Homo sapiens: one gene and its partners. The protein of the gene in region 6 purifies or fractionates together with the protein of the main gene of each other region. This does not show direct contact. Each region holds a gene or a part of one and is shown on either strand. Other genes may lie near its edges. The genes, in order: MTMR1, SMC4, MYDGF, SLC25A31, SPIN1, TRIM17 and CDAN1.

Region 1 (3,605 bases), on a different chromosome or scaffold from region 6:
GGATGTGGAGCGACCAATGTCCTGGGGTTAGAGAGGGCAGAGGCAGGAGCAGAGTGCTGCGGGGCCGCTCCCGGGCTACATGGGTTGCGCAGTCCGGGGCCTGGAAGCAGCAAAAAGTCCCAGGCTCACAAATCCCAAGTCGACTGCTCTGCCGCCTTCCAAGCAGGCTGGTAACCAGTGGAGGTTCCAGTTAACGCGCAGTTGTTTTTCAACCAGAAAGCTGGGTGAGAAAGGAGCCCTGCACCTCGTCACTTGTTGCAGCCTCATGGAGAGTGGCCCGTTTGGGATGAAGTATGTCCTTCTCATCAGCTCGCATGTTGGCTTCAAATTGAGAAGACGACAGTTCAGTTCAGGGCATTTCAGCATGAAAACAAACAAGATGCAGTGGACCCTGGGTTTTAACATGGAGGTCGGTTGTTTGTTTTTTCATTTTGTTTTGCCAACCTCGGCTTCTAGTGAAATAATAGCATCAGGTCCTCTCAAACCCGAGACCACCATATGCCTGTCTCGTGCAGGAGTTCTGCATGGCTAGCTGCTATGGTCTCACTGCTGGGGAAGGCTGGCTGGCAAGCAGTCCCCTGGGCATCCTCTGTGCCCAGTGAATACCGGGCTCTCTGGCTCACTCAGTAGTAACGTGTGTGGAGAGGGACAGGGACCCCACACCCTTAACAAGAAGACCGACAACACACAGAGGGCACAGGGGGTGGTGTGATTTCATCCAGGCCTTCGTGGCCCTGAAAAGGTGAACGCCCCTTCCTTTGGGGTGGGGGCAGTCTGAGGCCTTAGAGAGCACTGCACTTGCATGCGAAGGACTCATCACCCTGACTGGCTCCTCTCAGGTGTCTCCAGACCTTTCCCCAAGTCGTCCACGTTTTCTCAAGGTTAGAGCTGAGGGCGTTTCTGACTTTACAATCATCAATCAATCAATCAATCAATCAATCAGTATTTCCTGTTTCAGCCAAAATACTTACTTACTTACTTACTTACTTACTTAAGACTCATGATACATTTACAATTTACTGAATGAATTAAATCACATAAAGTTAGTTACTTTACATCATCATATATTAACTGTGCTTGACGCACAGTAAACATTCAATCCATGTTATTTTATTACCGATTTTCCTCAAAGGAAAAATCTACTAAGATACTTACTTACTTACTTAAAAAAGACCAGGGAGCAAACATATGATCATTTTAATTACAGATGATTGAAATACAGTGCAACAGATGAGACAAATACAATACTGTACCAGTTTTTAAAAACCTGAACCATAACGGCTTCGCATTCTAGTACACTTACTTACTTAAAACAAAAATTGCTTAGATAACAAAACTATACTTCAAGTTGTTTTAGAAACAGTTCTGCGCTAGGAACATACAAAGGAAAATGACCCGTTGTGCTTCTTTAAAATCGAATGAGAGTCTCCTCTAGGGTCCTGCTGACAGAGCCCCCCCCAGCCTCCGCCAGGTGAGGTGCACAGGGCCCACTCCAGGCACCAGCTCCCCCCAACTTGGCTTCTCTGGTTTGTCGAAGGCATCATCCAGTCCACACTATGTTTAACAGTCCTAGTCAGCCAGGGGATTACATATTTCTGGGAAGAAAATGGCAAATGTCCCCATTAAAAAAAAAATCAGTATATCAATAATCCAGTATATCCATTCATAAATAAGCTTTCAGATATGTTAGGAACATAAAAGCTATTGTTGAACACGACTTAGCAACAAATCCCACATATGATAAAAAATGGAGAATTGATTTTAGGTTATCAAATTACCTTGAATAAATCTCTCTGGTATCTTCTTATAGAAGGATAATTTTCCGTAAGAATCAGGAGGTTCCCAGTTAAAAAAAAATCCATTCTTTCTCTCTCTACGAAAAAACCCTTAACATATTTTCAAAAATAATAAGGTCAATCTGTAGGCCTTTGCCTGGAATCCAGTAGTTTGAAACCAACCAGCTAACACTGCTATGCAGTCACACTGGGGTTTGACCTCAGGGGCCGCTGCAGCTGCCTCTGCCTCTAAAGGCTGAATTCCTGCAGCCAGTGGCGGGGTGGGGGGGCAGCTGCAGCAACAGGCACGGCACATGGGAGGGGCATGGCCTGCTGGGGCAGGACCCAGGTGTGCAATAGTCATCTGTGGCATGTCACACAGAGGAGCTCAGAGCTATGGCGCTCAAGTGGATTGAACCAATTGGTAAGTTAGTTAATTCCTGCGAGAACCGACGGAGTCACAGAGCTCAAAGTCAGTAAGTAAAGGTTCAGGAGCGGGAAGAGAGGGCTGACCAGCTGCGGTCGGCTCTGGGAAGGGAAAACCAAGGGAAGTGCGTGCTATGCTTTTCCAAACCAAAGCCACAGCACGGTGGCTGCTTTCAAATATGAACAGGCAGCCACGCGAGTAAGCTGAGTTGAAGGAATTGTGATAAAATGAGAAATGATTTCATACAGGCAAATAACATAAGAACAGACTTGCTTTGATCCCAGCAGCTGGCTGCGGTAAAGTGGGGGTGGGAGACATGGCTAGACAGCCCAGGAGCGAGTGACAGGCAGTGCTCCTTGAAGGAGCCAGAGGCCAGCACCTGTGCACAGCTGCCAGAGGCCTCGGTTTACCCTCAGCGGGGCTGGAAGACTGAGCATGGCCGCTTGGTGCCATCCCCATGAATGGGCTGAGCCGCCCCAAGAGGCGAGTACCAGAGTGAGGTGAGGACAGAACACGTTGCCCTTGAAATTGCACCACAGAAAAACGAGCATGAGGTTTGTTGGAAAAGAATTTCTCCCACAGTACAGTTGAGCTGATCCCCCCTCGGGTGACTATTCTAAACGTAAAAAAGGACATAGGAAAATAAAGGCCTGTTTCTCTTCTCTAAAAATACCTTATATGTACACAACAGTAATTGTTAACAGGAGGACCCCGTGCATGAAGAAAACTGTGGAACAGAGGGCAGTGGCCTGTCTTCTCCCCAAGTACTTCATTCAAGACAGTTTTCAAGTTGTGGCCAAGAGCTGAGGGAAGCCACGGGGCTGGCAATGCATCTTGAAGTGAGTGGTGTTTGTTGTTACTGAAGGATTTAAGTTGGAAAGAAATGGCGTACAGCTTTCTTGAACCTCAGTACTGCATTCCGTTCACTTAGTTTCTCCCAAGCTGCCTGAATGCCAGAAGTTGCTTCACAGGGTGGGCGTGACAGACGGCTCCCCTGTGAAACCGCTGACAGGAGGGTAACGGTTGCCAACAGTGGGAGCTGTCACCTAGCCACACAAATGGTCCCTGGGCCTAATCCTAAAAGACAAGATCACAAGCTACAGCCATAACAGTGATCGCCAGGTCCCTTTCCTGAGCCACCGGGAGACAGTGGAGCAGCAGGCTGACCTCGCCCATCAGACCGAGGTGTGGACGGAGGTGGCGGAGTGGGAGGGCGAGGAGCCCCGCTCAGATGAGGATGAGACGGCGCGCGTGGCCACCTCCCGCTGTAGGCCCTCCACACGCTTCTGCAGCTCCGCCCTGACGGCCAGCAGCTCCTTGAGATTCTGGTGAATGGGCATCTGGAGGGAGCAGAGACAAAGCTGCATTATCAGGCCATCCTCCTACCACAGCGTTTCCACATG
Region 2 (2,402 bases), on a different chromosome or scaffold from region 6:
ATTTTCACATGGGTTCTGGGTACTTCTAATTCTTTGAAACTTAGTACTGCAGGCTGGGTGCAGTGGCTCATGCCTATAGTCCAGCACTTTGGGAGGCTGAGGCAGGCAGATCACTTGAGGCCAGGAGTTTGAGACCAGCTTGGCCAACATGGCAAAACCCTGTCTACCAAAAACACAAAAATTAGCTGGGCACTGTGGTGTGCACCTGTAGTCCCAGCTACTCATGTGGCTGAGGCACTTGAATCGCTTGAACCCGTGAGGCAGGGTTGCAGTGAGCCAAGATCTTGCCACAGCACTCCACCCTGGGTGATGCAGTGAGACTTTCAAAAAAAAAAAAAAAATCTGAGCTCTACTGCATTGGTTATTAAAATATAATAAAAGTATTAAATTCTATTTTCGCACCAAATGAAAACACTTGATTATCATTATAGCACTTTAAACTTACTTTTCCCTTATATATTCTTGATTTAGAACAAATTACCGTACTTGAATTTCCGATCTTGCTTTCTTTAAATCTTTATTTAAAAGTCCATGCTAATAATGTGTTTACATTTTTACAGTTACATTATGATAGAAACTGTTGGATTTTTTAAATATCTAAAACAATGGCCCACTGAAGAAAGGAACAATTAACTCTTTAATTAATTCCTTAGGATAAATACCCAGAAATTTAACAGCTAGGGCAGACTTCTAATACAATACCGAAAGTCCTTCCAAAAACCAAGTGGTTGCCAACTTATGTCCCTTAGCATTATAACATTCTTGAGCCAATAGTGTAAAAATACGCTGACAATTTTATAGGCAAACATTACTCAAGGTATCTTACTTTCCACTTATTACTAAAGTAATTAACCCCTAAATAGATGCTCCTCAACAGTGGGACTACATCCTGGTAAACCTATCATAAGTTGAAACTATCAAGTTGAAATGCATTTAGTACCCGGATAAACCTATCATAAAGTTGAAAATTTGTAAATTGAACCAGTGTAAATCAGAGGCCATCTTACTTCATACTCATGAAGCAACTATAGTGGGATATTTTTCAACTTACGAGATAGCCTAGGCTTGTTGAAACACTGTCCTAATTTACTGGCTCTCTGGTAATTAAGTCATAAATGGTCAAACATCAAATTCTAGAAAAGCATATATTTAAATTCTCATCACTATAATTCAGAATGACTGGTTTACAAAAATATGTTCATAGTATTTGGGTAATAACTGTGGTGATTGTCTCAACTGGCAAGCTAAGTGGAATGCCTTAAAGAATCTATCCAAGATTAGTTGGCAGGCATTTCCAGTGTTGGTAAATCAAAGGCCCACGAAGGTATGCTGAGCCTTGATAGCACAACCTTGCTTAGGACTTTGCCTCAACTAACATACTTTTTAGTTTGGCAAGTTACCTGACCCTCCAGGTAACTCATTTTTCTCCATAGTCTGCTACTTACAAGATTGTCATATTTTTGTAATCTAGAAGCAATTATAGAGAATATTTTATTAGACTTTACAAATGACAACTGCATAAAACAGAAACCAGTTTCATGATCTAGTTTAGGGAGTATGTATTTTATACAACTCATAATCCTTTACAAATAGAAAAAAATCAGTAATACACTGAATCAACTTGAAGAATCTTCAGCATAAAGTTCAACAAAGTCCCTTAGATGCAATTTCTTTTGGATTTACAGCAACACTTTTTGTTATGTTGTATGTCTTGTAAATTCCAATAAGTCTATCCGAAATCTCAAACATATTATTTCGAAGAGAAATTATTATGAACTGTGCATTTTTTGTTTGTTCCTAAAGAGAAACAAAGAAAAGTCAAACATTAAGTAATAACAGGTAAATCACACAAACATGTAACCTCAAATATTTTTTGGACAATAAACATTACATTGATAACATGTAAAGGAATGATGGCAGGAATAATTCATAAAACAGTATTTGAGTGTGAAAGGAATTTGGTTATTTTGACTTCTAGTGGAAAAGATCTAGGAAGATGACCTAGGATTCTAGCTGTGATTCTGCTACTAATTTGCATTTTTAATTTATATTTTACTCCTCCAAAATGGAAATATTTGGTTCAAATAAAAAATAATTTGGTCTCCACTGATACCAGAGGAGATGGAGATGGAGTTATTAGACAATAAAGAAAAAGCTCAATTGTAAGAAATAAAGAATTCCATGTGTAATGTTTAGGATACCCCTAAAAGTTTCTGGAATGAAAATCCCAAAATGATTACTTACATATATATAAAATGCAACAATGGACACATTTTTAAAATCAAGGGCTGCATCAATCTCATCCATGAAGTAAAGGGGAGTGGGCTTGTAGTGGTGAAGAGCAAATACTAAAGCCAATGAACTAAGTGTTTTCTCTCCTCCCGAAAGGTTGAAGATCTTTT
Region 3 (4,685 bases), on a different chromosome or scaffold from region 6:
TGAGGTCAAGCAATCCACCCACCTTGGCCTCCCGAAGGGTTGGAATTACAGGCATGAAGTATCACGCCCGGCCAATAAATTTCCTAACGCAAGCAGGTATCCCAATTTAGAACAGGCTGCCACTGCAGAAAGGCAACTGGCTTGGACTTCTGTCATTGGCAGAGGAGTCAGCCTCCACGGGGATCCTTCTCACCTCCCTGGGGCTCACCACCCTCCGTAGCTATGGAGTAGAGTGATTTAATTCCTCAAAGGGTGAATTATAACCCATCTTAGGAGTCATCTATGACGTTTTCTCTCTGGATTCTGTTTTTTGCCAGTTGGGAAGGACTAGAAACACCAGCTTAATTATTGACCCCCCAGGCCTGGCCACTGGTGTTTTCTTGAAATGTTAAGCCATTTGTAACCAAAGAATGACTTCCTTCTCTAGTTGAAAACCTGGGATCTAATGATAGCAATAGCTACAATATATAATTCTCAGTTCATTCGTCCCGGTGTGGGAACTTAATTCCCTCACTTACTCCTCCCAACAACTCCTTGAGGTAGGGATTATTTTCTTTTTAACTTTTTATTTTGAAATAATTTTTGCCTCCCAGAAAATCTGCAGAAACTGTAGGGTTTCCTAATACGCTTCATCCAACTCCCCCTAATGTGAACATCGTCTGTAACCCCTAGGACAAGCCAGGTTATCAAAGCCAGGAAGTGAACACCCACATAATCCTATTAACAAATACACAGACTGATCGAGCGTGATGACTCACACCTGTAATCCCAGCACTTTGGAAGGCCGAGGCAGGCGGATCACTTGGGGTCAGGAGCTCAAGACCAGCCTGGCCAACATGGTGAAAACCTGTCTCTACTAAAAATACAAAAATTAGCCAGGGGTGGTGGTGAACACCTGTAGTCCCAGCTACTCGGGAGGCTGAGGCAGGTGCATCACTTGAACCTGGGAGGCGGAGAGTGCAGTGAGCCGAGATCGCGCCACTGCCCTCCAGCCTGGGCAACAAGAGGGAAACAAAAGCAAGCATCCTGCTTCTCATCCTACTTTCCCTCTGCTAATTTTGAATATCGATGCACACACATCTTGGCTGCAACGATTATGAGAAGTTCGCCTAATGGTGACCTTCGATTTCCCTCACTCCCTGTACATCTCCTAACTGAAAGAGCTGCAGTCAGTCACACGGCTGGTGAGGGACCCTGAGACCCCAAAACGAACTCCATTACCACCTGAGGGACCCTCCAAGGATCGCCGGGCTACGCAGGGTCCCTAGGGTACGAGGCCGCCCCCTCGGCGGCCCCGCCCCCTCGGCGGCCCCGCCCCCTCGGCAAAAGTCCCGCCCCCTCGACAAAGTCCCGCCCCCAAGATGGTGGCCCCGGGCGGTGGACAGGGCGGGGCGTGCCGGGTCACGTGGACAGCCGACGCCGACGTGGCCTCCGGCGGACGCTCCACGTGTCCCTCGCCGCGCCCCGTCTACCCGCCCCTGCCCTGAGGACCCTAGTCCAACATGGCGGCGCCCAGCGGAGGGTGGAACGGCGTCGGCGCGAGCTTGTGGGCCGCGCTGCTCCTAGGGGCCGTGGCGCTGAGGCCGGCGGAGGCGGTGTCCGAGCCCACGACGGTGGCGTTTGACGTGCGGCCCGGCGGCGTCGTGCATTCCTTCTCCCATAACGTGGGCCCGGGGGTACGTGCCACCGCCGTCCCGGATATTTGAGTGCTGGCAGGCCCGGGGAGGGGGCGCGGAGCATTGGGGGCGGGGCCCGAGGAGGGGGCGCGGACCGCGGAGGTGGGTACTGAAGAAGGGGTGCGGATTGTTAGGGTCGGAGGCTGAGTGGGGGGCGCGGGACCGTGAGGCCGGGGTCATCACTGGGGCAGGACTGAACTCATAGGGAGCGGGGCCTTGTGGGCCCCGGCGGCGTTGAGGGGGCGTGATCACCTGTCACCTGTCGCCTGCCTGGAGTGTCCAGGCACCCCTGCCCTCCAGACGCAGAGGTGGGGAGGGGTCAGTGATGGGAGCGGCAGGAGGCTAAAGGGCATCTGCCCTCCTGGGCCTGAAGGAAATCAGTCGCTGCAGCTCCGAAGAGGGAGGAAGTGCTCCTTCCTTCCATTGCACAAGGTCCCCCCTCACCGAGGGTGTGAGGCCGGGCCCTCAGCCCTGTACTCAGCTTGTCGGCAAAGTCCTTTCCCCTCTCAGCCTCCCTTTCCCCGCCTGTAATAACAGTATCTTTACTGTTTTTTGACTATTTCTTTTTAGACTTGCGTGCAGTGGCGGGATCTCGGCTCACTGCATCCTTAGCCTTCTGGGTTCAAGCAATTCTTCTGCCTCAGCCTCCCCAGTACCTGGGATTACAGACGTGTGCCACCACACCCGGATAATTGTTGTTGTTGTTGTTTGAGATGGAGCCTCACTCTGTCGCCCAGGCTGGAGTGCAGTGGCGCGATCTTGGCTCACTGCAACCTCTGCCTCCCAGGTTCATGCCATTCTCCTGCCGCAGCCTCCCAAGTAGCTGGGACTACTAATCTTTGTATTTTTAGTACAGATGGGATTTCACCATGTTAGCCAGGCTGGTCTTGAACTCCTGACCGCAGGTGACCCGCCCACCTCGGCCTCCCAAAGTGATGGGATTACAGGCGTGAGCCACTGTGCCAGGCCAGTTTGTTGACTACTTCCTTATAGTTAGGTGTGATGCCAAGTCCTTTATATGTTAGGCCCAAGTTACAGATGAGAAAATGCTTCACATAAAAAAGAGAAACAGAGAGAAACTAGAGGCTCAGAAAAGTTTTCACTTGTCCAGGTCCCATGGCAAAACCCATCTCTACAAAAATACGAAAAATTAGCCAGGTGTGGTAGCAGGTGCCTGTAATCCCAAGTACTCAGGAGGCTGAGGCAGGAGAATCGTTTGAACCCGGGAGGCAGAAGTTGCAGTGAGCTGAGATCATCCCACTTCAGCCTGGGCGACAGAACAAGACTCTGCTTCAAAAAAAAAAAAAAAAATTAGTCGGGTGTGGTGGTTGCGTACCTATTGTCTCAGTTACTTGAGAGGCTGAGGCAAGAGGATTACTCAAACCTGGGAGTTCGAGGCTGCAGTGAGCTGTCATTGTGCCCCTGCACTCCAGCTTGGGTGACAGCAAGACCCCGTCTCTTAAACAAAATAAAAATTTCCTTCTACCAAACCTTTTTTTTCCTTCCATTCTCTAGGACAAATATACGTGTATGTTCACTTACGCCTCTCAAGGAGGGACCAATGAGGTGAGTTGTTCAAAATTCCCTCTAGCTTACTGTGACAGTATCCATTGTTGTAGGGAGATGTTCTGTAGCAGACAGCAGGGTTGGGTCTCACCTATATCACCTTACACTCATTGAATGACTCTTCCTAAACCAATAAAAAGGGAGAGTATTGGCATTAAACAGTGACGACAGATTCTGCTGTTATTATTCTACAGAGCAAGCAAATGTCTGGACAGAAGGAGGGAGGGGAGATGGGAGTCTGCCATCCCCATGAGCATCTGTTGGGATGTTGTATTTTATGTGCAGTGCAACAAGTTATCACAGCTTAGGGGCTTAAAACAGCACCCATTTATTATCTCATAGCTTTGTAGGTCAGAAGTCTGGGTCAGCTCAGTTGTGTGCTTCATAAAACCAAACTCAAGGTATTTTGGGAGGCTGAGGCGGGCAGATCACCTGAGGTCAAAGTTCGAGACCAGCCTGGCCAACATGGCAAAACCTCATCTCTACTAAAAATACAAAAATTAGCTGGGCATGGTGGCACATGCCTGTAGTCCCAGCTACTCAGGAGGCTGAGGCAGGAGAATCACTTGAACCCAGGAGACGGAGGTTGCAGTGAGCCAAGATTGTGCCACTGCACTCCAGCCTGGGCAACAGAGCGAGACTCTGTCTCAAAAAATAAATAATAAATAAATAAAGGTATCACAGGCAAGGCATGGTGGCTCATGCCCCATCTCTACAGAAAATAAAAAAATTAGCCCAGCGTGGTGGCGTGCACCTGTGGTTCCAGCTACTTGGGAGACTGAGGTGGGAGGATCGCTTGAGCCCAGGAGGTCAAGGCTGTAGTGAGCCGTGATTGTGCTACTGGGCAACAGAGCAAGACCCTGTCTCAAAAAAAAAAAAAGTCTCTGGGCTGGGAGAAGAATCCTCTCCTTCAAGCTCTTAGTTGGCAGAATTCAGTTACTTGTGGTTCAGGGACCAAGGTCCCGGTTTCCTTGCTGGCTGTTGTCTCCAGCTGGTGGCAGAAGAGCCAGTAAAGATGATTTGGGCCAGGCACAGTGGCTCATGCCTATAATCCCAGCACTTTGGGAGGCCAAGGCTGGCGAATCACCTGAAGTCAGGAGCTCCAGACCAGCCTGGCCAACATGGTGAAACCCCGTCTCTACTAAAACTACAAAAATTAGCCGGGCGAGCCAGGCGCACTGGCTCATGCCTGTAATCCCAGCACTTTGGGAGGCCGAGGCGGGTGGATCACAAGGTCAGGAGATCGAGACCATCCTGGCTAACACGGTGAAACCCCGTCTCTACTAAAAATACAAAAAATTAGCCGGGTGTTTTGGTGGGCACCTGTAGTCCCAGCTACTGGGGAGGCTGAGGCAGGAGAATGGCGTGAACCCGGGAGGCGGAGCTTGCAGCGAGCCAAGATCGCGCCACTGCACTCCATCCTGGGCGACAGAGCGAGACTCT
Region 4 (3,998 bases), on a different chromosome or scaffold from region 6:
CAGTCTTACTTGTGGAGGGACAGGCTTTGTTACATAAATGCAGGATCGTCACTCAGCATGGGCAGATTCTTACTGCCTTTCTCCCTCTATTTCTGTCCTTCCTACCGTCACTACATAGATCGGCCATACCGTTTATATATGTTGTGCCTGCCCCTGTCGTTTTTTCATAGCTCCCACTTTCTGTATCAGAAGTGTCCTGGTTTGAATGATAAATTACATGATTATCCACGCCAAAAATCATTGATCTGCCTTCTTTCTCATCAAGAAAGAAAAAAAGATTAAGTAGAACTTAAGATCTACTTTATAAATCTTTATGCCACATATTTTGTTTGGTTGATGTGCTTGGTTTTCATAAGCAGAGATTAACTCAGATTACCTCAGGAAAAAGATGATTTATTGTAATGATACAGTGGCACTTGAATTTCAGCCACAGGCACCTCTACGGACCAAACTATACTCTCATCTTTCTCTCCCAAGTCACCTGTTCTTTCTCTCTAATTACCTGCTTTTAGTGTGTGTGTTTGCTCTGTTTTCTCATTATTGCCTACTTTTTTTACTTACTGATATTTTCTTATTCCTTTAAATTCAATATTTGTACCATAGTAATCCTTTTTGGCCTTTCTAAAGGTCAGAGGTTCTTAACCTGGGATCCGTGAATGCTTCCAGAATACCCCACACTCTAAAAATATATGTTCATACATGTGTAATTTTTCTTAGGAGAGGATCTATAGCTTTAAACAGTCTCCAAAAAGTCTAAGACATTAACTTTTCCTTTTCTGTCCTTATTGATAACTAGTATTGAATATTTAAAGTTCAGTTCCCAAGAAAGAGGCTCTGGCCCAGCTCATCTTTTTCTACCAGGTTACCAATCATCTACTACACTGTGGATTAACTACCCTTATGTCAGATGCAATCTCCTGATCTAATTATTTCTGTATGATGAGACATGCTGCTTATACAATAAAACTGATGAGTGTTACTTAAAAAGATCCATGGGAGTCTGGGAACAGTAAGTGGCATTACCAGTACACTTTATTAAACAAATACTTATTTAATACATATCTCTGGGCAAGACCTCCTGACTTGCTCTGTGAAATAAACAGAGGAATTAAGAATCTTGGCCTCAAACAAATGGAAACAACCCAAATGTTCATCAGCTGATGAGTAGATAATGTTCATAAAATAGAATATTATTTGGCAATAAAAAGGAATGAAGTATTAATATGTACTGCAACATGGATGAACCTTGAAAACATGCTAAATGAAGGAAACCAGTCAAAAAAGAGTGTGTCTTATGTGATTCCATTTATATGAAATGTCCAGGATAAGCAAATATATAGAGACAGAAAGTAGTTTAATGGTTGCCTAGGACTTAAGGAGGTAGGGAGGATGTGGAGTGACTTATAACAGGCCTGGGGTTTCTTTTTGGTGTGATGAAAATATTCTAAGCTGTGGTGATGGTTGCACAACTCTGTGAATATATTAACAATTGAATTGTACGCTTTACATAGGTGAATTTTATGATATGTGAATTATACTTAGTAAAGCTGTTAAGGAAAAATAATGCTGGCCTCAAGAAATTTATAGTCTGGGCCGGGCGCAGTGGCTCACACCTGTAATCCCAGCACTTTGGGAGGCCTAGGCAGGCGGATCACGAGGTCAGGAGATGGAAACCATCCTGGCTAACACAGTGAAACCCCATCTCTACTAAAAAAAAAATACAAGAAAATTATCTGGGCGTGGTGGCGGGCGCCTGTAGTCCCAGCTACTCAGGAGGCTGAGGCAGGAGAATGGCGTGAACCCAGGAGGCAGAGCTTGCAGTGAGCCAAGATCTCGCCACTGCACTCCAGCCTGGGCGACAGAGCGAGACTCTGTCTCAAAAAAAAAAAAAAGAAATTTATAGTCTGTAGGAGTATAAATGTACACAAATAATTATAAATTGAAAGTAGAAAATGGTTGTAAGTGATATTTAAAAAATAAGAGTCTGTGCAGTGAGTCGAGATCGCGCCACTGCACTCCAGCTTGGGTGACAGAGCTAGACTCCATCTCAGAAAAAAAAAGAGTCTATAACATGTTAATACATTTTATGTATTGGTCATGGGATTCAACTTTAATTCTCTGACAGAGATGAAGTATTTATGGGAAGAGGGTATGATCATATACAGTTTCAATAGATGGGTTGGAGATCAGATATTTCATGAAAGAAGTAGAACTTGAATTAGAGCATGAAGCAATAACTATTTTTTTGTTTAAAAAAGGAAGAGCATTCCAGGGCTAGAGAACATTGAGAATTGCAAAGCTGTCTGACACTTTATTGTTAGAAATAAAAACCAGAAAATAAAGCAAGAAATTGAGCTTGACTAGCATATTATTCACTTTAATGTATTAAGTGCTTGCAGTGGCCTCGTATCCTGGATTTTTCATAACAGCTCCAATTCAGATACTCCTTTCTTCTCGCATAAGCACTAGATGTTGAAAAGCATCTTGCTGAACCTGGGGAGGGCACATTTTAAATGTTGATCAAAAGTAATTATACTTCTTCAATAGCTCATGTGAACTAGTAGACCAGTGAGGCCTAACTTAAATGCCATACAACTACATTATGATTGATGTCTGCCAATCTCCATGTTGTCATTTGAACATAATTAAATACGTATTTTTGAGCTATTCAAATTTAATTCTATTTAAATTACAAAGTGAAGCTGGGGCATTGTGAAGTATTTTAGGTTGGTGCAAAAAGTAATTGCAGTTTTTTGCCATAATACTACTTACTTCACCCTTCACAGAAAAAGGGCACAACTAAAGCCTCCATATGTGCCTGACATTGTAATCATAGCAAGCACTATTATTAAGAATTATGTAGCTATTAAGGAAAAAAAAAAGTATACAGCGTAAAGAGATGATTATGCGACCTCTTTTGCTAATTTGGGCTGCTTTGCTGGAGAACATTAAAATATCCTGGAATTTCAGTATGTCAGCATCTAAACTGTGTCTTCCAGACTGCATGAAACAAAAGCTATATGGCTATAAAAATAAAATATTTTGGATAGCATGGTATGCATTATTATAGATGTTTACTTTATAAAAGTGGCTTATAAATCTGGTGTTTTAACATTTATAAAAATAAGAATTTACCAGGTATTTTAAACAGTTAGATTCTGTGGTTTAATAACCACTTTTAAATTAATATGTTTCAGTTCTGGAGGTGGTTTTTGGCAAACCTGGCTTCTGGTGGAGCTGCTGGGGCAACATCCTTATGTGTAGTATATCCTCTAGATTTTGCCCGAACCCGATTAGGTGTCGATATTGGAAAAGGTATGAGATTTTTAGAAATACTAACTTTTCCTTCTTTGCATTTTGAACCATCTGTTATTTATTGGCATTAATTGTGCTATAATAGTGTTACCAGATAAAGTCTACGAACTTTGTTCTCAACCAAATGGTGGAGTCATAGGGCCTAAAGTATATTACTTGCTTCTTTTCCCTTAAAAAAGGGAAGGAGGGAAAGCCTGTTGTAACAAAAAAAGTGAACATAAAAATTGCTTATAACTTAGTCCCATTTTTTTTTCCTAGAAAGCCCTTCCTAGATTTTTTTCCATGCACTTAGTCCTGTCTCAGCTGTGGCTCCCTTCTAGGTTAGATGCACAAATCTCATCCTAGGGAGTCCCTTTGCCTCTATCCTTACTTAAATATCACATCTTCCCTTTTTTGTTATTACACCCTTGTTTTTTGGTAGAGTATATTCTTTGGTAACTTTTTGAGAAAGAGTGAAAAAAAATAAATTGAGCTCTTACATATCTTAAAAAAAGTGTTTGTCTTACCCTCTCAAAAAGGGTAAGACATATATGAAAGTCTGAGTTTAAAATTATTTTCCTTCACAATTACGAAAATATTACCCTGACTTCTAGTTTCTAATGTTGCTCTTAAGATACCAATTTGCTTACTCCGGATCCTTTAGTATATGTTTTTTCTTTTTAGTTTCTTTCTATCCCTGATGA
Region 5 (3,998 bases), on a different chromosome or scaffold from region 6:
GACTTCTTTGTTCTGACAAGTTGATTCTAAAATTTATATGAAATTGCAAGGGACCCAGAATAGTCAAAACACTCCTGAAAAAGAAAGGAGGGGCCGGGGTGCAGTGGCTTACACCTGTAATCCCAGCACTTTGGAAGACTGAGGTGGGCAGATCACTTCACCCCAGGAGTTTGAGACCAGCCTGGCCAATATGGCAAAACCCCATCTCTACTAAAAATACGAAAGTTAGCCCAATGTGGTGGCGTATGCCTGTAATCCCAGTTCCTTGGGAGGCGGAGGTTGCAATGAGCCGAGATCGTGCCACTATACTCCAGCCTGAGCAACAGAGTGCGACTGTCTCAAAAAAAGGAGGAAAAAAAAAAGCAGGACTCAAACTTCTTGATCTCAAAATTTACCACAAAGCAATGTAATCAAGACAATGCAGCACTGGCACAGCAACAGACATACAAACTAATGCAACAGAATTGAGAGTCCAGAAACACACCCACGTATCTGTGGTCAACTGATTTTCTTTTTTTTTTTTTTTTTTTTTTTTTGAGACAGAGTCTCGCTCTGTTGCCCAGGCTGGAGTGCAATGGTGCGGTCTTGGCTCACTGCAACATCCACTTCCCAGGTTCAAGCGATTCTCCTGCCTCAGCCTCCCGAGTAGCTGGGATTACAGGTGCCTGCCACCACACCTGGCTAATTTTTAGTAGAGACAGGGTTTCCCCGTGCTGCCCAGGCTGGTCTCGAACTCCTGACCTCGTGATCCACCCGCCTTGGCCTCCCAAAGTACTGGGATTACAGGTGTGAGCCACCGCGCAACAAGGATGCCAAAACCATTCAATGGGGGAAAGAATAGTCTTTTCAAAATATGGTGCTTGGACAACTAGATAGGCAGTCACAAGCAAAAAAAAATGAAGTTGGACCCTTAACTTGAACCACAAACAAAAATTAACTTGAAAATGCATCAAAGATCTCTAAGTAAGAGCTATAATTATAAAACTCTTATAAGAAAACGAGGGTAAATCTTTATGACCTCAGATTTGGCAAAAGATTCTTAGGACACAAAAAGCATACTCAGCAAGAGAAAACATAACTCGGACTTCAGAGTTTAAAACTTTTGTGCAAAGATCATCATCAAGAAAGTAAAAACAGCCCATGGAATAGGAGAAAACATTTGCAACATATATCTGATAAAGGTCTTGTATTTAAAAAATTGTCACAATGCAATAATGAAAGACAGATAATTCAATTTAAAAATAGGCAGGGGATATGAATAGACATTTCACCACAGATGATATTAAAAGGGCCAATAGGCCGGGCATGGTGGCTCATGTCTGTAATCCCGGCCCTTTGGGAGGCCAAGGCAGGTGGATCCTTTGAGGTCAGGAGTTCAAGAGGAGCCCGGCCAATATGGTGAAACCCCATCTCCACTAAAAATACAAAAATTAGAAGACATGGTGGCACGCGCCTATAGTCCCAGCTACTGGGGAGGCTGAGGCAGGAGAATGGCTTGAACCCAGTAGGCGGAGGCTGCAGTAAGCTGAGATCACGCCAATGCACTCCAGCCTGGGCGACAGAGCAAGACTCTGTCTCAAAAAAAAAAAGGGGGGGGGCCAATAAGCATATGAAAGATGCTTAACATCATTACTCATCAGGGAAATGCAAATCAAAGCCACAATGAGATACCACTTCACATCCACTAGGATGGCCAGAATCAAAGTAACAGTAACAGTTGGTGAGAATGTGGAGAAATCAGAAGTCTCATACACTGCTGTTGGAAATGTAAAGTGGTATTTCCGTTTTTAAAATTAGCCTGGCAGTTCCCCCAAACGATTAAACATAGAGTTACCATTATGACCCAGCAACTCCACTCCTAGGTATATACCCAAAGGAAATAAAACATGTCCACACAGAAACTTGTACAAAAATGTTTACAGCAGCATTATTCATAATAACCAAGAGGTGGGGAAACAACTCAGATGTGCTTTACTGGATGAATGGCTAATCAAAATGTAGTATATCCATACAATGGAATCGTATTTGGCCATTAAAAGGAATGAAGTACTGATATATGCTACAGCGTGAATGAAATCTCAAAATATGCTAAGGGAAAGAAGCTAGCACAAAGGACCTCACACCATATAGTCCATTCATATGAATGTCCACAACAGGGAAATTTACACAGCAAGTATTACTGGTTGCTTAAGGCCAGGGGGTTCGAAGAATAAAGGACTGACAGCTAACAGATACAAAGTTTTCTTTTGAGGTGATGACAATGTTCTAAAATCGACTGTGGTGAGGACTGTACATATCTGTGCGTATATTAAAAAGTACAGAAATGCACATTTTAAATGGACTAACTATATGGACTAACATGGTCGTAATGGCTCACACCTGTAATCCTAACACTTGTGGGAGGCCAAGGCTGGTGGACTACCTGAGCTCAAGTGTTTGAGACCACCTTGGCCAACATGGTGAAACCCCATCTCTAAAATATAAAACAAAACAAACAAACAAACAAAAATTAACCAGGTGTGGCGGTGGGTGCCTGCAGTCCCAGCCACTTGGGAGGCTGGGGCAGAAGACTCGCTTGAGCGTGGGAGGCGGAGGTTGCAGTGAGCCAAGACCACACCATTACACTCCAGCCCAGCCTGAGCAACAGAGCAAGACTCTGTCCAAAAACAAAAACCACAATAAAGGTTTTCTAGGCCTAATGAAATTAGCCCAGGTCACATCCTCTTCTACCTTACCTGTGTGAACAGACTAGTTGTGGAAATAGCTAAATCACCTGTCTAAACACTGACTCTGTACTCCACTTGCTACTGAAAAGTTAGCAGTCAATCGTTTTCTGAAATTGATGTTCTCTAAATCAGGAGTCCCAGACACCTGGGGCCACGCCGCACAGCAGGAGGTGAGCAGCGGCAAAGAGAGCACTGCCGTCTGAGCTCTGCCTCCTGTCAGATCAGCAGAGGCATCAGATTCTCACAGGAGCACAAACCTTATTGTGAACTACGCATGTGAAGAATCTAAGTTGTGTGTTCCTTATGGGAATCTAATGCCTCCAAAACCACCATATCCACACCCAACCCCCAATCCACAGAAAACTGTCTTCCATGAAACTGGTCCCCGGTGACAAAAAGGCTGAAGATCGCTGCTCTGAAGTTCAAGTATTTACAGATGAAATAATCAATGTCTTGGGATTAGATTCAAAATAATTGCACTGGGGGGACTAACAGATAAAACTAGACAGGCGATGAGATAACTGTTAAAGCTGAGCAGGGTACACGGGGACGTATTTTACTGATCCCTATTCCATCATGTTTTTAAATAAAAGCAAGAAGTAATATGTAGTAGTGTTAATAATTATAAAACAACTTGTATCTTATTACAGAAGCCAAGCAGAACTGACTATCAAATATTTTCTTATCTAACATTTATAACAACTGGATGAAAAATTTCAAAGGCTGTGTTTGTGCATGACTAAAAGAATCATATATCCAAAAATAAAAATGTATCTGCAAAAGAGCCAATCAAATATCTTGTACTGAAGTCCAAATCCCTTCTAATTATCACATATAAAAGTTGCCAATATATACTTACTGGAATCAGGCATAATGCGAAGGTCGCCTTCTTTGTAATCATCTAAGAGTTGGTACATGTACAAGACAGGGTCTTTCTCATAGGTAATGTAAAACCATGTGTTCATGACAGGTGCACGTGCTAAGACCATTCCCCTCCACTCATCTTTAGAACCATCCTCTGTCTCAAACATATGTTCCACTGCTTTGCCAATCATTGTGTCTGCCAAGTGTGCATCGCTGATTCGAGATGTCGCTGGGGATTAAAAAAAAAAAAAAAAAGTTGACAAAGTGTTTCGCTGATTACCGACTATGAAGACTGAATTTACTAAAGAAGGCTACACCTGAAATTTTGTCCATGCAACGTATTAGCAAGCATCAGAATCTGGGAAAGCTTTAAAAAGTACAAAAACCAAAGACAAACTACTGGGCCCC
Region 6 (4,796 bases):
AAGGCACTTAAAAAAGGGCAGGTGTAAGAATTGCTGTGACCCTCGGCCTTCCTAAGAGCAGAAGGCACAGCCACCATGCCAGAGAGGACTGCCCTAGGCCAGGAGGAAAGCCATGTTCTTACCAAGGGCGGGAAAGCCGAAACCAGAGAAATCTGTGCAAAGGGACCCTGCTAAACTAACCCTCATCCTCCTCAGGTACATGTTTGGCTCTAACATGCTTCCATGGGCCTCTGGCTCCTTGGGAGCGACTCCTGGGTCATGGAAAGCTTACAGGGAATGAATTTCAGTGCTTTGCTTCTGCTTATCTGTCTCAAATCAGTTTGGTTCTCAGAGCCACCCAAAATACTCTGAGAGGAGAGGTAAGATTTTGCAATGCCTGCATCATACAGTGTAGGCCCACATTGTCCCCAGGGACACCCCTACCCAGCCACAGGCCACCTTGTCCCCTGGATGCCTCCTCCCCAGCCCCTGACTCGGGCCACTTTGTCCCTGGACACCTCCTCCCTCCCCCATGATCTGGGTCACCTTGTCCCCCTGGATGCCTCCTCCCCGGCCCCTTGACCTGGGCCCCGATGTGGCCTACCTTGTACCCCTGCACTGCCTCCTCGGCGGGCAGCACCCTGTGCAGCCGGTGCTCCCGGGACTCCCTGCACACCACACAGATGGGGCTCTGGTCCTTCTGGCAGAAAAGCTTGAGGGGCTCGTGGTGCTCCTGGCACAGGTCTTGCTTCTGCAGACCAGGATGCTGCTGCGCCATCTCGGCCACCTTGGTCAGCAGCCGGTTGGGCAGCAGGTTCCTCTGCGGGGACATCTCTCTGCACTCGGGGCAGGGGAAGGAGCCCTTCCGCTTCCGCCTCCCCTTCTTGCCCCTCGCCTTTTCCCAGCTCAGCTGGATGCAGGCTCGGCAGAAGTTGTGGCCACAGGTGGTCATCACAGGGTCTGTGAAGTAATCCAGACAGATGGAGCACGTAGCTTCCTCCTGCAGTTTTCTGGCGAGTTCCACAGCCTCCATGGCTCCTGGGAGACACGAGGCAGGTTCCCGCTTGAGGGACTCTGGAGAGAGTTGGAGGGAGCAGCCCGATGATCTGGGCGCCGGCAGTGTGCAACCGTCCTGTACAGCCTCCCTTTACAGAGGAGGGCTAGGACTGCAGTCCAGTTAGAGAGTCCAGAGTCATCATTTTTAGCCTTGTCAACAACAGACACAGATGCCTCCCCAGAAACTACACAGACCCTCCCTGACCAATGCTCTGCAGGCCCCTCCGCCTCTCCTCTCCACTGGGCCTGGACCCTACCCGTCCACTTCCGCCTGCTGCTGGCTACCCCCAGCTCCACATCTCATCAGCTCCTCCTCCCCGACAGACCGTTGCCGGCTAGGCCTTCAACCTGCCTTTCTGGAGAAGCCTGCTAGGTCAGCTTAGGGAGAAGCCCCTACCCTTGGAGCCTTCCCTTAATCACTTTCCATCCACTGACCCCACCCAGATCCCCACTCCAACTCCCCCATACATCCCCAGCTGTCTTTGCTGGCGCAACTCTCCCATTGCAAGTAGCCTGACTAAAGAGCCTTTCAAATGTCAGAATTTTTTCTTTAACAAAACCCCGTACACCAAAGGAAGAAGGGATGGGCTATCAGAGGAAAAAAGCTCTCTTCCATTCGGTAGTGAGGTGGGGTTCAGAAAAAACACGCGTGTGCATGTACGCACAGACGAACACCCATACACATACCCATGTATGTATACAAACGTGCATGTGCACACACGCATACCCACGCATACACACCACACAAATACAAACATGTACGCACAGAAACACTGATCCACAAACACAGCACACACAGGCACAGATGCACATATCGGTAAACATACATGCATGTACACACAGGTACACGCGCGCACACACGCACAGGCACACAAGCATGCACATAGATGCCCCCTGCAATCTCAACACTCGCGACCCCACGCAGTGGAGATCTACAGACTTTCGCCTACGCCACGGGGTTGCTATGGGGACCGAGTTGCAGAAGGAGTTGAAAATCGCGTCTACACTGCAAGCACGATTCTCCCCTTCCGTTCTGCCATCCCCTAAAGCGAGGGCGTCTAGGGGTCTCAGACTTCCCCGGCTCTGTCCCACGTCCAGTTTCTCGGAGCTTTCTGCACGCCAACCACCCGGCGCCAGCCCTCCGACTCCCCCCAAGAGCCCTAACGGAGGCACCCAGCCCACCCTGACCGAAGCCGGGCAGGGACAGCGGCAGCGGGCCTGGGGCTCTGGCTCTGGCTGCCGGGATGGCTGTCCTTCCCGCTCTGGTCCGCTAGGGTCCCGGTAGAGTTACCTTGTTGAAGCGCGCTAGCCCCTCCAGGGACGCGGCGGCCGGCGGAGGCGGGAAGGCCGGGCGTTGGAGGGCGAGGAGGACCGGGTTAGGCTTAGGTCGTGGCCCAGGCGCCACAGGAGGGTAGCCTAGGCGGCGGGGTGGGGGCTACTCACCGCGGGGAAGGGGGGCCCGCACAGCGCCTAGTGCACCTGGCCGAGCGCTCGCTGCCGGGAAAGGCTGGGTCTGCCCCCACGAAGCCCAGGAGGCTGCGGCCCGGCCCGGGGCGTGGGGACCTGGGGTCGGGAGGCCTAGGGACTTTGTGGCGTCAGCGGGGGCTGGGGGGCGGCGGGGGAGGGGAATGCTGGGCGAGGGAGTGTTCGGCGGCCGGGACTGGGGCGGCGCCTCTTAGGAGAGGTTGGGGGTGGCTTGGGGAAGGAAGGCGGCAGGGGGTGGAAGGCTCTGGACGAGCCGGGGACAGGCGCAGCGGGTGCTGACTGGGCGGTGGGGAGGATGTGGTCCACAGCCCAGCGAAGGGAGGAGTCTTGTTGGCCTGGGGTGGGACTTTTAGGGGAGGTTAAGGGAGTGTGGAGGGTGGGGAGTTGGGGGGTTACTTGGGGGTGGGGAGTGGAATGGGGACAGCTGGTGGGGCTAGGGGCGGGCAGGCGAGCGTCAGGGTGGGGGGAGTGGGATTGGAAGAGGCTTCTCAACCTGGGGTTGGGGCTGCGGGAGGGCACGCGAGCCCCAGGCTGGAGGGTTAGGTGAGGGGCTAAGTTGGTCGGGGTAGGGGATGGAGAGGAGTTTGTGTGGGCTGGGGTGGGGGCGAGGCAGCAGGAGCGAGTGCCTGTTGAGAAGCTATGAAGGGGGTCCCCAGGAGCAGCCAGTCAGCCGCCAGGTCTGCCCACATGGTTGGCAGTCAGCATCAGGCTGAGGGTACAGGGAGGGGCGTCCCAATCCTGTGGGCGGACCAGTTTGGAGGGACCACCTGGCAGGTCAGGTCCCCTAGAACCAGGCGGGACGGGGTGGGTCTTGCCGACACCCCAGGTGGTTTTGTTACCAGAAACAGGTCCTGATCCAGACCCCAAGAGAGGGTTTTGGATCTTGGGCAAGAAAGAATTCGGGGCAAATCCATAGAGTAAAGTGAAAGCAAGTTTATTAAGAAAGTAAAGGAATAAAGAGTGGCTACTCCATGGGCAGACCAGCCCCCAGGGCTACAGGTTGCCCATTTTTATGGCTATTTACTGATTATATGCTAAATAAGGGGTGGGGTATTCATGAGTTTCCCAGAAAAGGAAGGGCAATTCCAGAAACTGAGGGCTCCTCCCCTTCTTAGACCATATAGGGTAACTGTGACCTTGTCTTGGCATCTGTAAACTGTTGTGGCACTGGTGAGGGTATCTCATAGCATGCTAACGTATTAAAATTAGCATATAATGAGCAGTCATGATAACCAGAGGTTATTCTGGTCGCCATCTAGGTTTTGGTGGGATTTTGCTGGCCTCTTCACCACATACTGTTTCATCAGCAAGGTCTTTATGACGTGTATCTTGTGCCAACCTCCTATCCCATCCTGTGACTTGGAATGTCTAACCTCTGGGGAATGCAGCCCAGCAGGTCTCAGAATTATTTTACCCAGCCTCTATACAAGATGGAGTTGCTCTGGTTTAAAAGTCTCTTACGGTTTCAGCCAAAATGCCGCCCCCAGCCCTGCCCAGGTCCTGACTGGTGGCCATTTCTCCTGGCCTTGAGTCCCCACGCCTAGTCATCACGCTTCATCCTCCAGTAGAGGGATGCACCTTTCACATGGAGGGTTCATCTCCTGCTTTCAGGAACAGGAGCCAGAGGCCTGCGTGCCCTGAGTCAGAGTCCTGGGATTGGAGAGAGAGGACAGATGAAGAAACTAAGGCTTGGCCCACACAGGGGGTGCAGACAGGCAGGAAAACAGGGCCTTGAAGGCTAAGAGGCACCATTCTGCAATCTCCTGGGTGTGCGGGTGTAGACAGCTGGCCACAGGCATAGATGGCTGGCTTTCCCTGGGCTCACTCGGTAGAGTGTTTCTTCTGTGGTCTCTCATCACTCGCACACACAAAGGGGTCTGTGTGCTGTCAGGTGCGGGCTGGCTGCGCACACTGGCCGATTAAGTGAATTACCCTTGTGAACCCAGAATATCTGAGGCTAGTTTAAGTCAATTAGGAAGTTTATTTTGCCAAAGTTAAGGACACACGCCCATGACACAGCCATGTGCCCAAGGTGGTCCGAGCACAGCTTGGTTTTATACATTTTAGGGAGACATGAGACATCGATCAATATATGTAAGATGAACATTGGTTCCATCCAGAAAGGCGGGACAACTGGAAGTGGGGAGGGGGCTTCCAGGTCATAGGTAGATAAGAGACAAATGTTTGCATTCTTTTGAGTTTCTGATTAGCCTTTCCAAAAGAGGCAATCAGATATACATTTATCTCAGTGAGCAGAGATATGACTTTGAATAGAA
Region 7 (4,583 bases), on a different chromosome or scaffold from region 6:
ATGGTGATGAGAGTGCGGTGGTGAATGGCTTGATAGCAAATGAGTCTCTAGGAGGCAGTCGCCCCAGTATTTGGAGACAATTTCAGAAATGTTCTATGTGGGAGGTGATGCTTGTTTAGTTACAGGCAGTAAGAATAAACCATCAGTTCTCCTAACTTTATTTTAAAACTCAAAGACTCTCTAGAGCAGGAGTCAAGAAACAGCCCATGGACTGAAGCGAGCCAGCCCCTTGTTTTGTGAGTGAAGTTTTAGTGGAATGCAGCCATATTAATTTGTGTACGAGCTGCCTATGGCTGCTTTTGTGCAACTACTGAACAGCAGAGTTGCATAGTTGGGACACAGACTTTATGGCCTGCAAAGCCTAAAATATTTACTGTCTGGTTCTGGTCTAGGGTAATGATCTAGGAATAGAGATTGGAATAGGGACTATAAGGTACAATGACTAAAAAATGGAGATTATGTAGGAGGGAGAGGAAGAGGCTTAGTGGCCATTTGATACTGGTTGTCAATATGCAGAGGATTTCTGTATTGAAAGCTCAGCTCTCCAGAGAAGATGAACAGAGAGGCTTGAGAGACAGACGATACTAAGACGGTATCTGATAGGCCGGTTTCCTTACATGCTTCAAGAATAAGATGCCCTATGGGAGTTGGTTAGCTACAGTTTGGTCCCAAGTTGAGTGACGTTTCCCATGCTATGGCAGCCTACTGTCCCTCAGCTGACCTCCATCTGTTCCCTCTTTTGTTGTCCACATGGTTGCTTCCCCTGGCTGTATTATCCTGCCCAAGTCCCAGGTCTAGGGGCAACTTGGCTTTACTCACCATATCCCGGGGCCCATTCTTCTGCCTCTCTCCACTGGCTGATCCCTGTCCCAAGCCAAATTCTCTGTGGCATCCTGGCCCCCAGCGCAAGGTGATATCTCCCCCTGCTCTTCACAGGACGTGCTCTCCTTGGCCGTGGGGCCACGGGACCCTGACGAGGGAGTCTCCCCAGAGCATCTGGAACAGCTCCTAGGCCAGCTGGGCCAGACGCTGCGGTGCCGCCAGGTGAGCTGTGGCATCTGCCACCGGGGGGCTTTTTTCTGTGTCCTTGTGTGAGACCTGATAACCAGAGCCACACTGGCTCAGGGCCAGTTCTCGCAGCAGTAAGCATGGTGATACCTATGGTCTCTCTTTCCCCCCCACCCCAACCGCAGTTCCTGTGCCCACCTGCTGAGCAGCATCTGGCAAAGTGCTCTGTGGAGTTAGCTTCCCTCCTCGGTATGGTTGCTTTCCATCAAATCCCTCTCTTGCCTGATCCCCCAAATCTCAGGGTTGGGTACAAGCAAGATTAGAAACAGAGCCCTCTTCTGTCCCTTTTTTTTTTTTTTTTTTTTTTTTTGAGACGGAATCTTGTTCTGTTGCCCAGGCTGGAGTGCAGTGGCACGATCTTAGCTAACTGCAACCTCTGCCTCCCGGGTTCAAGCAATTCTGCCTCGGCCAAGTAGCTGGGACTACAGGTGCCTTCCACCACGCCTGGCTAATTTTGGTATTTTTAATAGAGATGGGGTTTCACTATGTTGGCCAGACTGGTCTCGAACCCCTGATCTGCCCACCTCAGCCTCCCGAAGTGTTGGGATTATAGGTGTGAGTCACCGCACCCGGCCTGCCCCCATCTTTTAAAGCTTGGCTTTCCTCTTTCCACAGTTGCAGATCAAATTCCTATCCTAGGGCCCCCGGCACAGTACAGGCTGGAGAGAGGGCAGGCTCGAAGGCTTCTGCACATGCTGCTTTCCTTGTGGAAGGAAGACTTTCAGGGGCCGGTTCCGCTGCAGCTGCTGCTGAGCCCAAGAAATGTGGGGCTTCTGGCAGACACAAGGCCAAGGGAGGTGAGTCAGACGGAACAAGAAGCCCTCTGCAGTCACACTCTGAACATCCACCACCCTTGCCCCAAACTATGAGCTGCTCTGCATCCTTTATTTCCCCTTCCTGTTCCACACAGAAATGGGCTCCATTTATCCATCTCAAGTCTCTTCCCAGCAGCTCTGCCCTTTGAGATCTCAATCTCTGTCATCAGGGTCACTCTGTCGTCCTCCTAGCAACCCTGACCTCGGTGTGTTTTGCAGTGGGACTTGCTGCTATTCTTGCTACGGGAGCTGGTGGAGAAGGGTCTGATGGGACGGATGGAGATAGAGGCCTGCCTGGGCAGCCTCCACCAGGCCCAGTGGCCAGGGGTAAGGAGTCTCCTGTCTTTTAGGTGGAGAGAGAACAGGTGTTACATATCCCATCTGTCCTGAAAGGAAGCAAGTGATGGGGCCAAACTAAGTGGATTTTTGTCAAGAGTCTTCAGGGCCACCCTGAAATTGTCCCGATTTGAGTAGTTATTATATGAGGGACTGTGTTAGTGGGAAGACGGACGAAAGGCAGGCAGTTAGTTGGAAAGCAGCACAGCCCATTATATGGGTTTTTAAAATTAGAATAACCTGGATTTTAACGGGAATAATAATTTCAAGATGAAGTAGATGCACTCAGTAGTACTCAAAAACTGGTCAAGCCTGTGCCTCCATCAGAGTTCGCTCCCTGCCATAACTTCAGCCTCCCAGAGTACTAACAAACAGACAAGGTTTCATGTCCATTTCAGTGTGGAGGGCAGTTGAGAAAAAATAATATAGCCAGCCAGGTTGTGGTCTTTAGTGACAAAGGATGAGCCATTGAGAATTATTACATGCTGCCTTTTCCCTCATCTTTCTATGTATTCCAGGACTTTGCTGAAGAATTAGCAACACTGTCTAATCTGTTTCTAGCCGAGCCCCACCTGCCAGAACCCCAGCTAAGAGCCTGTGAGTTGGTGCAGCCAAACCGGGGCACTGTGCTGGCCCAGAGCTAGGGCTGAGAAGTGGCCCTGCCTTGGGCATTGCACCAGAACCCTGGACCCCCGCCTCACGAGGAGGCCCAAGTGCCCAATGCAGACCCTCACTGGTTGGGGTGTAGCTGGGTCTACAGTCAGACTTCCTGCTCTAAGGGTGTCACTGCCTGGCATCCCACCACGCGAATCCTAGAGGAAGGAGAGTTGGCCTGATTTGGGATTATGGCAGAAAAGTCCAGAGATGCCAGTCCTGGAGTAGAAGAGGTGGTGTTTGTTTATCTCTTGGATACTAAATGAAATGAGGTGTGTGGGCTTGTCAACACAGAATTCAAGCCTCATTTGCTATCCCAGCATCTCTTAAAACTTTGTAGTCTTGGAATTCATGACAGAGGCAAATGACTCCTGCTTAACTTATGAAGAAAGTTAAAACATGAATCTTGGGAGTCTACATTTTCTTATCACCAGGAGCTGGACTGCCATCTCCTTATAAATGCCTAACACAGGCCGGGTCTGGTGGCTCATGCCTGTAATCCCAGCACTTTGAGAGGCCTGAGGTCGGCGGACTGCCTGAGGTCAGGAATTCAAGACCAGCCTGGCCAACATGGCAAAACCCCATCTCTACTAAAAATAAAAAAATTATTAGCTGGGCATGGTGGTGTGTGCCTGTAATCCCAGCTACTCAGGAGGATGAGGCAGGAGACCTGCTTGAACCTGGAGGTGGAGGTTGCAGTGAGCCGAGGTCGCACCACTGCACTCCAGTCTGGGTAACAGAGCGAGACTTTCTAGAAAAAGCCTAACAAACAGATAAGGTAGGACTCAACCAACTGAAACCTGACTTTCCCCCTGTACCTTCAGCCCCTGTGCAGGTAGTAACCTCTTGAGACCTCTCCCTGACCAGGGACCAAGCACAGGGCATTTAGAGCTTTTTAGAATAAACTGGTTTTCTTTAACAAGGGCTTGATGTCTAATCATTGTCACCTGTCTTCTCCCTTTAGAAGGCTGCAGTCTCGGGTGGGCTGTAGGTGGAGCGCTGTAATTGTGGCTTTGCTCTGTGCATTACAAGGTGAGCTACCTTGGCTCTTAGAAATGCCTGTATATTCCACTCTAGAGGGCTAGTCTCTGGTGGCAATATCTATTAATTTAATTTATCGCCAGTGGTACTGACTTCTCCTGTGTAACTCGCTTTATTTGTGGGAGAAAGGGTTAGGATAATGTAGTTTCCACACACAAGATATTCCCTACTGAACCACATGGTGGGGCAGTGTTCTTGTTAAGCTTGTTAAGGCTAAGGTGTTTGTTTGATTGATTTGGCTTGGAGTTTCTCAGAGCAAAAGCATTGCTTCTCGATTACAGCTGTATCAAGCTCTATAAATGAGCCACTGATTTTGACAGGTTCACACCTGTAATCCCAGTGCTTTGGGAAGCCGAGAGAGAGGACTACTTGAGTCCAGGAGTTAGAGGTTACAGTGAACTATGATTGTGCCACTGCACTCCAGCCTGAGCAAGAGTGAGACCCCCATCTCTTTGAGGGGAAAAAAAAAAAGCACTACTGTGATCATGTGCATTAATAACCAGGAGTTGGACTGATAATATAATCCTCAGGAGGACCTAAAGGGGTCCACTTGTGTGACCATGGTAGAGCCAGGAAATCCCATCAACCTAGAAAGTAAAAAATGGGAGTTTTCCTCAGTCACCACCTTGTGATCATACTTCTCCCAAACACCATGCCTTTCCCTTCTCC

What was found.
Region 1: the proteins of TRIM17 (region 6) and MTMR1 purify together in Homo sapiens (affinity purification with mass spectrometry; one large-scale study listed by BioGRID and IntAct). This does not show direct contact.
Region 2: the proteins of TRIM17 (region 6) and SMC4 purify together in Homo sapiens (affinity purification with mass spectrometry, with the first as the bait; one large-scale study listed by BioGRID). This does not show direct contact.
Region 3: the proteins of TRIM17 (region 6) and MYDGF purify together in Homo sapiens (affinity purification with mass spectrometry, with the first as the bait; one large-scale study listed by BioGRID). This does not show direct contact.
Region 4: the proteins of TRIM17 (region 6) and SLC25A31 purify together in Homo sapiens (affinity purification with mass spectrometry, with the first as the bait; one large-scale study listed by BioGRID). This does not show direct contact.
Region 5: the proteins of TRIM17 (region 6) and SPIN1 purify together in Homo sapiens (affinity purification with mass spectrometry, with the first as the bait; one large-scale study listed by BioGRID). This does not show direct contact.
Region 7: the proteins of TRIM17 (region 6) and CDAN1 purify together in Homo sapiens (affinity purification with mass spectrometry, with the first as the bait; one large-scale study listed by BioGRID). This does not show direct contact.

Annotation. Positions count from the first base shown.
Region 1 is NC_000023.11:150,762,502-150,766,106, reverse strand, and holds the end of MTMR1 (phosphatidylinositol-3-phosphate phosphatase MTMR1), read right to left. Parts: intron 3,543-3,605; coding exon 3,378-3,542; 3' UTR 999-3,377; downstream 1-998. UniProt on the Homo sapiens protein: Lipid phosphatase that specifically dephosphorylates the D-3 position of phosphatidylinositol 3-phosphate, generating phosphatidylinositol. Could also dephosphorylate phosphatidylinositol 3,5-bisphosphate to produce phosphatidylinositol 5-phosphate.
Region 2 is NC_000003.12:160,433,052-160,435,453, reverse strand, and holds the end of SMC4 (structural maintenance of chromosomes protein 4), read right to left. Parts: coding exon 2,245-2,402; intron 1,798-2,244; coding exon 1,645-1,797; 3' UTR 501-1,644; downstream 1-500. UniProt on the Homo sapiens protein: Central component of the condensin complex, a complex required for conversion of interphase chromatin into mitotic-like condense chromosomes.
Region 3 is NC_000019.10:4,667,152-4,671,836, reverse strand, and holds the start of MYDGF (myeloid-derived growth factor precursor), read left to right. Parts: upstream 1-1,494; 5' UTR 1,495-1,502; coding exon 1,503-1,676; intron 1,677-3,191; coding exon 3,192-3,242; intron 3,243-4,685. UniProt on the Homo sapiens protein: Bone marrow-derived monocyte and paracrine-acting protein that promotes cardiac myocyte survival and adaptive angiogenesis for cardiac protection and/or repair after myocardial infarction (MI).
Region 4 is NC_000004.12:127,761,046-127,765,043, forward strand, and holds part of SLC25A31 (ADP/ATP translocase 4), read left to right. Parts: intron 1-2,284; exon of another isoform or gene 2,285-2,493; intron 2,494-3,197; coding exon 3,198-3,315; intron 3,316-3,998. UniProt on the Homo sapiens protein: ADP:ATP antiporter that mediates import of ADP into the mitochondrial matrix for ATP synthesis, and export of ATP out to fuel the cell.
Region 5 is NC_000009.12:88,468,193-88,472,190, reverse strand, and holds part of SPIN1 (spindlin-1), read right to left. Parts: intron 3,820-3,998; coding exon 3,586-3,819; intron 1-3,585. UniProt on the Homo sapiens protein: Chromatin reader that specifically recognizes and binds histone H3 both trimethylated at 'Lys-4' and 'Lys-9' (H3K4me3K9me3) and is involved in piRNA-mediated retrotransposon silencing during spermatogenesis.
Region 6 is NC_000001.11:228,414,061-228,418,856, forward strand, and holds the start of TRIM17 (E3 ubiquitin-protein ligase TRIM17), read right to left. Parts: upstream 2,802-4,796; 5' UTR 2,479-2,801; exon of another isoform or gene 1,054-2,478; 5' UTR 1,013-1,053; coding exon 584-1,012; intron 1-583. UniProt on the Homo sapiens protein: E3 ubiquitin ligase that plays important roles in the regulation of neuronal apoptosis, selective autophagy or cell proliferation.
Region 7 is NC_000015.10:42,722,771-42,727,353, reverse strand, and holds the end of CDAN1 (codanin-1), read left to right. Parts: intron 1-936; coding exon 937-1,044; intron 1,045-1,193; coding exon 1,194-1,257; intron 1,258-1,683; coding exon 1,684-1,865; intron 1,866-2,102; coding exon 2,103-2,210; intron 2,211-2,737; coding exon 2,738-2,863; 3' UTR 2,864-3,810; downstream 3,811-4,583. UniProt on the Homo sapiens protein: May act as a negative regulator of ASF1 in chromatin assembly.